Linked DNA regions of Homo sapiens. The protein of the gene in region 2 purifies or fractionates together with the protein of the main gene of each other region. This does not show direct contact. Each region holds a gene or a part of one and is shown on either strand. Other genes may lie near its edges.

What was found.
Region 1: the proteins of PLGRKT (region 2) and VPS13C purify together in Homo sapiens (affinity purification with mass spectrometry; one large-scale study listed by BioGRID and IntAct). This does not show direct contact.

Annotation. Positions count from the first base shown.
Region 1 is NC_000015.10:61,851,560-61,854,447, forward strand, and holds the end of VPS13C (intermembrane lipid transfer protein VPS13C), read right to left. Parts: 3' UTR 830-2,888; downstream 1-829. UniProt on the Homo sapiens protein: Mediates the transfer of lipids between membranes at organelle contact sites. Necessary for proper mitochondrial function and maintenance of mitochondrial transmembrane potential.
Region 2 is NC_000009.12:5,361,158-5,364,986, reverse strand, and holds part of PLGRKT (plasminogen receptor (KT)), read left to right. Parts: intron 1-3,098; coding exon 3,099-3,229; intron 3,230-3,799; coding exon 3,800-3,829. UniProt on the Homo sapiens protein: Receptor for plasminogen. Regulates urokinase plasminogen activator-dependent and stimulates tissue-type plasminogen activator-dependent cell surface plasminogen activation.

The DNA.
Region 1 (2,888 bases), on a different chromosome or scaffold from region 2:
TTAGTCCTGGCTGTACATTAGAAACACACACAGAACTTCGTTAAAAACAGATATCCAGGCAGCACCAGATCAACATACTTAGAAACTCAAAGCACCAAAAAGATGATAGTGTCCTCCTTCATGCATAATTCAAAATAAAAACAATACTAAATCATAAAACACATGGAAGTAAGTCCACCCTGGATGGCATTTTTCTTACGAAGCTTGGGTACAGTCTTCTTCCTTTTTTTTTTTTTTCCTTTTTTAATGCCCCTGCTTTGCTACAGCCCTCAGCATGAACTTATTCTTCCTACCAGATAATCCAGCACTGGGTGAGCCTTCCAAACTGGTAGTCTGAGCCCCATGTGGAAGAGGGAGGAGAAGAGAAAGACAGCGGTATGGTAGAACATCCCAGACTGCCATGCAGTCTAAGAAAGGTTCTGCAAGGCCACTGAAGAGTCTTCAAGCCAAAGTCGGCTGTCAGAGGAGTTCTGTGTCTCCTAGAATTTCCAGACTAAGTATGTCTTAGTATAACTTCATACTCAGCCAGTCGCTGAGAGAAACCACGGAAGGCATGGGCTCAATGCAAATACAGCAATGGATTTCAAAGTGCAGCTGGGCCCCTAGGTCAACCGCATTCTCTGTAATCCCCCAGTATTGGAGGTCTCTGCCACAGATCTCTAGTGTGATAAAGGGGCTCAGTACCCCTGAGAAAAAGCTTTTCTGACTAGTATCTTGTAAAGTCCTCCATAACTATCAATATAACTTCTCACTATTTTGGGATTGGAAGAGGAAAAGGGAAAGACAAAAAGTAAAGCAAATGTTACTTGAATAACACAAACCCACAAAGTTTTCACACCTGTAAACAATGTGCCAAATGTTTTATTTCTCTCATATGCAAGTAATTACCTCTCAAAGCATTTTTAAAAAACGCATTATTACACTTTACCAATGAATTATTTCTGTCCCTGGAGATTAAATCAAATCAAAATGTTACAAATAGTATCAGTATGATATAATTTCTTAAATATATGGGACATTGTCAACAGCTGTGATTCATATGAAAAATATAATCAGATATCTCAAATTCCTAATTCTGTTTTAAAAACACAAAACACTAGAACAGTTGCTATGAAATTACTGATAATGATCCCTTTAATAAACTGCAATTAACCACTAATATAGAAATTCAATTTAAGCAAGAAGTTTTATATATTATACTTTACAGAAAAAAATAATTTTGAAAAAGTAATGACAAACAGAGATCAAACATTTAGGGCATTAGTTACTGCATTCTCTTTTTAGAATATACATTAAGTAACACTAGTAAAATTTAAAGTTTTATGACCAGGCCTTAAAAAACATGAATGATGATGACAGAACCACTATCACACATAAACAAAAATAGAGCAAACCAAGCGTGTCCACATCTCCATGAATTCAGTGATTTGAAATAAATGTTGTTATGTTAAACATTATGAGCAAATCTAAAGGTTCAACCAAAAAACTTACATATTTTTGAGTATTTTTTAAAGTTTTAATAGTTTATCTCTGATCAAGGATGGAGAAAGGACAAAAAAAAATACTGTCCTGAATTGATTCTCACAGGGCCTGCTCCCTCACAGAACACAGTGTCATTATATATGCCTTATTTATATATAAAACAACCAAAGAATTTTCATTCTTCTTAGTAAGTATTTAAAATACATTCTAGGCGTGCATTAGGAGTAAATGTTAATTTGTGATGCCCTTAAAAGACTTTCAACCTGTAAGAAACAATTTCTGGGAATATAAAAATATTGAATTTTACATATTTCAGAGTCTTGAGAAACTTAAAGTGCAGTATTTTCATGTATCAGCAAATAATAATTGTGTCATATAAGCTCATCTTGAAAGAGGATGTAAATACTTCCAAATTTTTATGAATGCTACATTACAGAGGGCAGAGTGTAGCTATTTTAAGGTTTGATTGTCCAGATTTTTTTATTAGACTGCAAGGAGGAAAAATAAGCACCAAAGTAAAATATGCTTTATTAGGGGGAAAAACAGTGTTTTCATGAAAAGAAAATAGAAAACATGTCATTTCTCCCTTTAGTGACCTTTCTTCATTCAATTACCTGGTTTACCAAGAATGTTAACTCAGTTCAATTATTGAACAAATCACTCTTAAACAAAATGTCAGGATCCAACATTTGTTCATGGGTTAAAGCCTTTTGGCGGGCCGTGGTGGCTCATGCCTGTAATCCCAGCACTTTGGGAGGCTGAGGCATGCGGATCACAAGGTCAGGAGTTCGAGACTAGACTGACCAACATGGTGAAACTCATCTCTACTAAAAATACAAAAAAAAAAAAAATTACCCAGGCGTGGTGGCACACACCTGTAATCCCAGCTACTCAGGAGGCTGAGGCAGTAGAACAGCTTGAACCCGAGAGGCAGAGATTGCAGTGAGCCAAGATCGCACCACTGCATTCCAGCCTGGGCGACAGAGCAAGACTCGGTCTCAAAAAAAAAAAAAACCCCAAAAAAACAAAAATAAAAAAACCTTTCAAAGAACACTAGTCATTCTAAGCTCATTTCTTATTCTTCAGTAAGGCTTTAATTAAATATAAGCCTATTGACCTTTGCTTCACAATTTTAATATTAATGAAAATTTCATTCTGAGTTTGAAGTGACGTTTCTTCAAGGGTCTGACCCATTTGGGTGGTGGCGTAGAAGTGGACTGCTAGCATATACATGGTTACAAAATTAGAGTAAAAACTAAAAGGTGAAAAAACTAGAAAACCCAATACTAGCTATTCCAGAAAACTAAAACTAAAGGATTGCTTGAAAAATTGTCTTTAGCAAGATAAAGCAGAGTGACTTATAGACAAGACCAGTGATTGTTTTTTCTCCCTGTTGGAGCCCCTGA
Region 2 (3,829 bases):
GCCTAATCTATGCATGCATATAGATATGCATATCTATAATTTCATCCTTGTCTATGTCTGTATCAAGCACTAAGCATGAGTTCATACGGATGTCATTGGCTCTAATCCAGTACCACATGGTTCATTCTAGTCTTTTCCTCTTGCTTGTTTGTAATCTCCCTGTTTAATAATAAGAAACCTGGCTTCCACCATCTTCTGTCAATTTACTTGTTGCTCATCTCCAGTAGACATGTAAAGCAGTTTCAGAATTGTTAATCTGTAACTCGTGAGAGACAGTTTTACTCACTAGAGTACAGTGTTTATGTATAGTCCTTTGTCTTTAGTTTTACAGTTTTTAGTCAAAATACCATTTTCCAAAGATAGATCAGTTCTTTTCCCCCAACCCTTCATTGAGGTTGTGCCACACATTTGTAGCACAGTCAGATTATTTTGTCACAGTCCCCATTCCATCTTGTGCATCCCTTGCCCTTTTGGCTGATTTGTAAAATTTGTATGCACTAAGGTTCACTCTGTGCTGTAAAGTTTTATGAGTTTTGACAAATGCAGAATGTCATGTATCCACCACGATAGTACCATACAGATTAACTCCATCACCCTGAAAGCCCCTCTGCTCACAATCTTTTGAGAGTTCCCAGGTAATCTCTTTCAGGTTGATATCTCAGGTTGATCTTTTGTGGGAAAAAAAATATGAGCTATGAGTCTTTCATTTCAGGTGACGGTTCTCAGTCCCGGCTGCACACGGGAACTATCTGGAAGCCTTTAGAAATTATGGATGCCTGATTTTACCTCCAGATCCTGACTTAATTGATCCCACTTGGTTTAGTTGGTCTGGGAGGTATATCTGGTTACTAGACCTTTGAAAATCTCCCCAGATGCTCATGATGTGCAGCAAAGGTTTAGAACCAGTCTGGACTCCTCTATTTCTTGTTTGCTGCCTTTTGATAAAAACACAAATAATTAATTGCTGTATTTACATCACTTTGGGGGATATGATGAATCAGTATGTAAGTTTTGTAAATAAGTAATGTGGCAAGGATGAATTTCACACACTAATCTTGTGCAAAAACACATCTATTTTTAAACTCTAATTGAACTCAAAATGAACCTCAGTTTCTCTTGGTGACAGCAAATTTAATTTTGACAAGTCAAAGTTACTCAATTACTTCTAGTTTAAAACTCGGTTCTTTGGGAGAAAATAGTTGAATTCAGCTTTCCTCCTCCCCTTCTCCGTTCATCTTTTCCCTGGTATGACCTAGGCTTGGGTCCAGGTGATCTCAGGTGGCACCAGCATCAGGGAAGGCACATCTAGCCAGATGCATCTGGGGATCCCCAGACAGAGAATTATGGCCCTGCTTCCTGTGGAGAATGTTGGGAGGGAGCAGGTACTGCAGAGCATAAATGGTTTCAGAGCAGACCTCACAGAGAGCATGCCTAAGAGAGGCCACTTCCGTCTCCCTCAGCGGCCAAGGGGTGTGAAGAAAGTCTGCAAGGTTCTCACATCAGCTGGAGAGGGCCAGAGAAGGTAGCTGAAGATTGAGAGCAGGTGGCCTACCAGAGTCCAAAACCTTGGGCCAGGGGACCCCATAACACACACTTGGGAGTGAATATAAGCCAGTGGCTGAGTGGGGAAGGCCACTGGATCCCAGAGGATCAGTAGCACCTGAGAGTATGGCGATGATGGTTACGCCAGCCTGGAACATGGCCACATGCCCTTAGGGAACATCATGTGGCGCTGTCCAGGTTGATTGAACAGAAAACAAAGCAGAAAAGCACTCTCGGGTGCTGCTGATCCTCTGGGATCCAGTGAGTGGCCTTCCCCACCCAGCCACTGGCTTATGTTCACTCCCCAAGTGTCTGTTATGGGGTCCGCTGGCTCTAGGTTTTGGACTCATTGGTAGTCCCCCTGCTCTCAATCCGCAGTTACCTTCTGTGCCCCTCTCCAGCTGATGTGAGAACCTTGCAGACTTCCTCCACACCCCTTGGCTGTTGAGGGAGATGGAAGCGGCCTCTCTTAGGTGTGCTCTCTGCAAGGTCTGCCCTGAAACCATTTCTGCTGTGCTGTAGCTGCTCCCTCCCAGAATTCTCCGCAGGAAGCAAGGCCACAAGTCTTCTCTGTTTAGGGATTCCCAAACCCATCTGAGGCTTCCGTCATATCTTCTGGTGATTTAACCTCCCAAATAGGCCAAGGAGCCAAGCCCCATCTTTACATCTAAACTATCATTCGCCCCTCCCAGCTACTCCCCTCAGTAGAAAGAGGGCATGGAGGGAAAACTAAATCACATTATTAGTCCTTCCTCTCCTCTTCCTTGCATCATGAACTCCCTGTGTATTGCCCTCTAGCTTGGCTAATGACATGTAGTGCCAAGATTTTAGAATTAAAACATCAACAACAATGCCAACAACACTTTTCTCTGTCAAGAATATAACTCTCTTCAAATAATGGGCTTGGGTTTACAGACAGTTGCTTCTCCTGAGTATTTTCTAAAAATCAATTTAGAAATTCAGTTTCCTTCTCTGTTCTGAGCCATCTGCCTTCTGTTCAAAGCAGTGAAAGGCACTGAACAAAGTGGTGAAGAACTTGAGGCGAGAAAAATGTGGCAAAGAAAAATCTCTATAGATGTCTCAAAACAACACCCATCTACTATGATATTGTGGTATGATATGGAGCAAATAAATACTCCAAATAAATTTCAATTTGGAATGGATTTGGAAGGCAGATTTCCATGCAAGTAGAAATAAAGGCCAATAAGATGTATCTACATTTAAAGACCCATAGATCTTTCCACACATCCAATAGGAAAAGCTGGACATTTATTTGAGACTTGGCTAAAGCTCCAGACCACAGGCAGTCAAGACCTCAGGGTGTAAAAATGGAATATTGATATTTATTCTGTATTTATTCCAGGAAGATTTCACTGCCAAGGTGACAGTTGGTGAGAGCTGTCCAAAGGAACTTTAGTCAAAGTCTGTTGAGATTTTTTTGAAAAAACATGAATTAAAGCAATTGAAGAATGAATCCGCTGGAAAAACAGATTATTAACTATTTGTTCAGATTCCAAAGATGAGTAACTTTACTTTGTCTTTTGTTTTGTCCTTAGCTGGAAAGGCAGCTCATCATGCAGAGTGAAATGAGGGAAAGACAAATGGCCATGCAGATTGCGTGGTCTCGGGAATTCCTCAAATATTTTGGAACTTTTTTTGGCCTTGCAGCCATCTCTTTAACAGCTGGGTATGTTTGCTATTTAACATTTTCTTCAGTCATTTACTTCTTTTTGTGTTTTCCATTACCATTTTATTATGAAGTTGGCCAGAATAAGACTTTGGTCCAAATAGTGTATGTAACCAAAGTAACCTATTAACCTTAGTCCTTGGGGGTAACTCTGTGAAAGCAAGGCAGTAACAGTTAATTTAGTTTCCTAGGTTGCTTCTGTCTTTTTCTCTACTTTATTAGTTAGAGAGAGAGAGCACCAACTTGACACCAAGAAGGGCTCTATGTGTTTATCTCCACAATCCCTTAGTGGTAGATACCAATCCTTACTCATTTTAAAAACAAGGAACCTGAGCTTCAGAGTCAAATAAAGATGAGCAAGTCACAGACCTTGCCCTTGAGAACTGCAGAATCTGGTTAGGGGTATTGGGTAAGGAAATCCTATTTCCATAGAATTATCAAATGTGTTAAGTAACTTCTGAAGGAAAAGGCATTCTTCCAAAAAGCAGGTATTTTTTTTTCTTTAAGTATACAGATATGTATTTACAGGTTATTTTTTGATATTGGTTCTTCTTTTAATTCTTGAAACAGAGCGATTAAAAAAAAGAAGCCAGCCTTCCT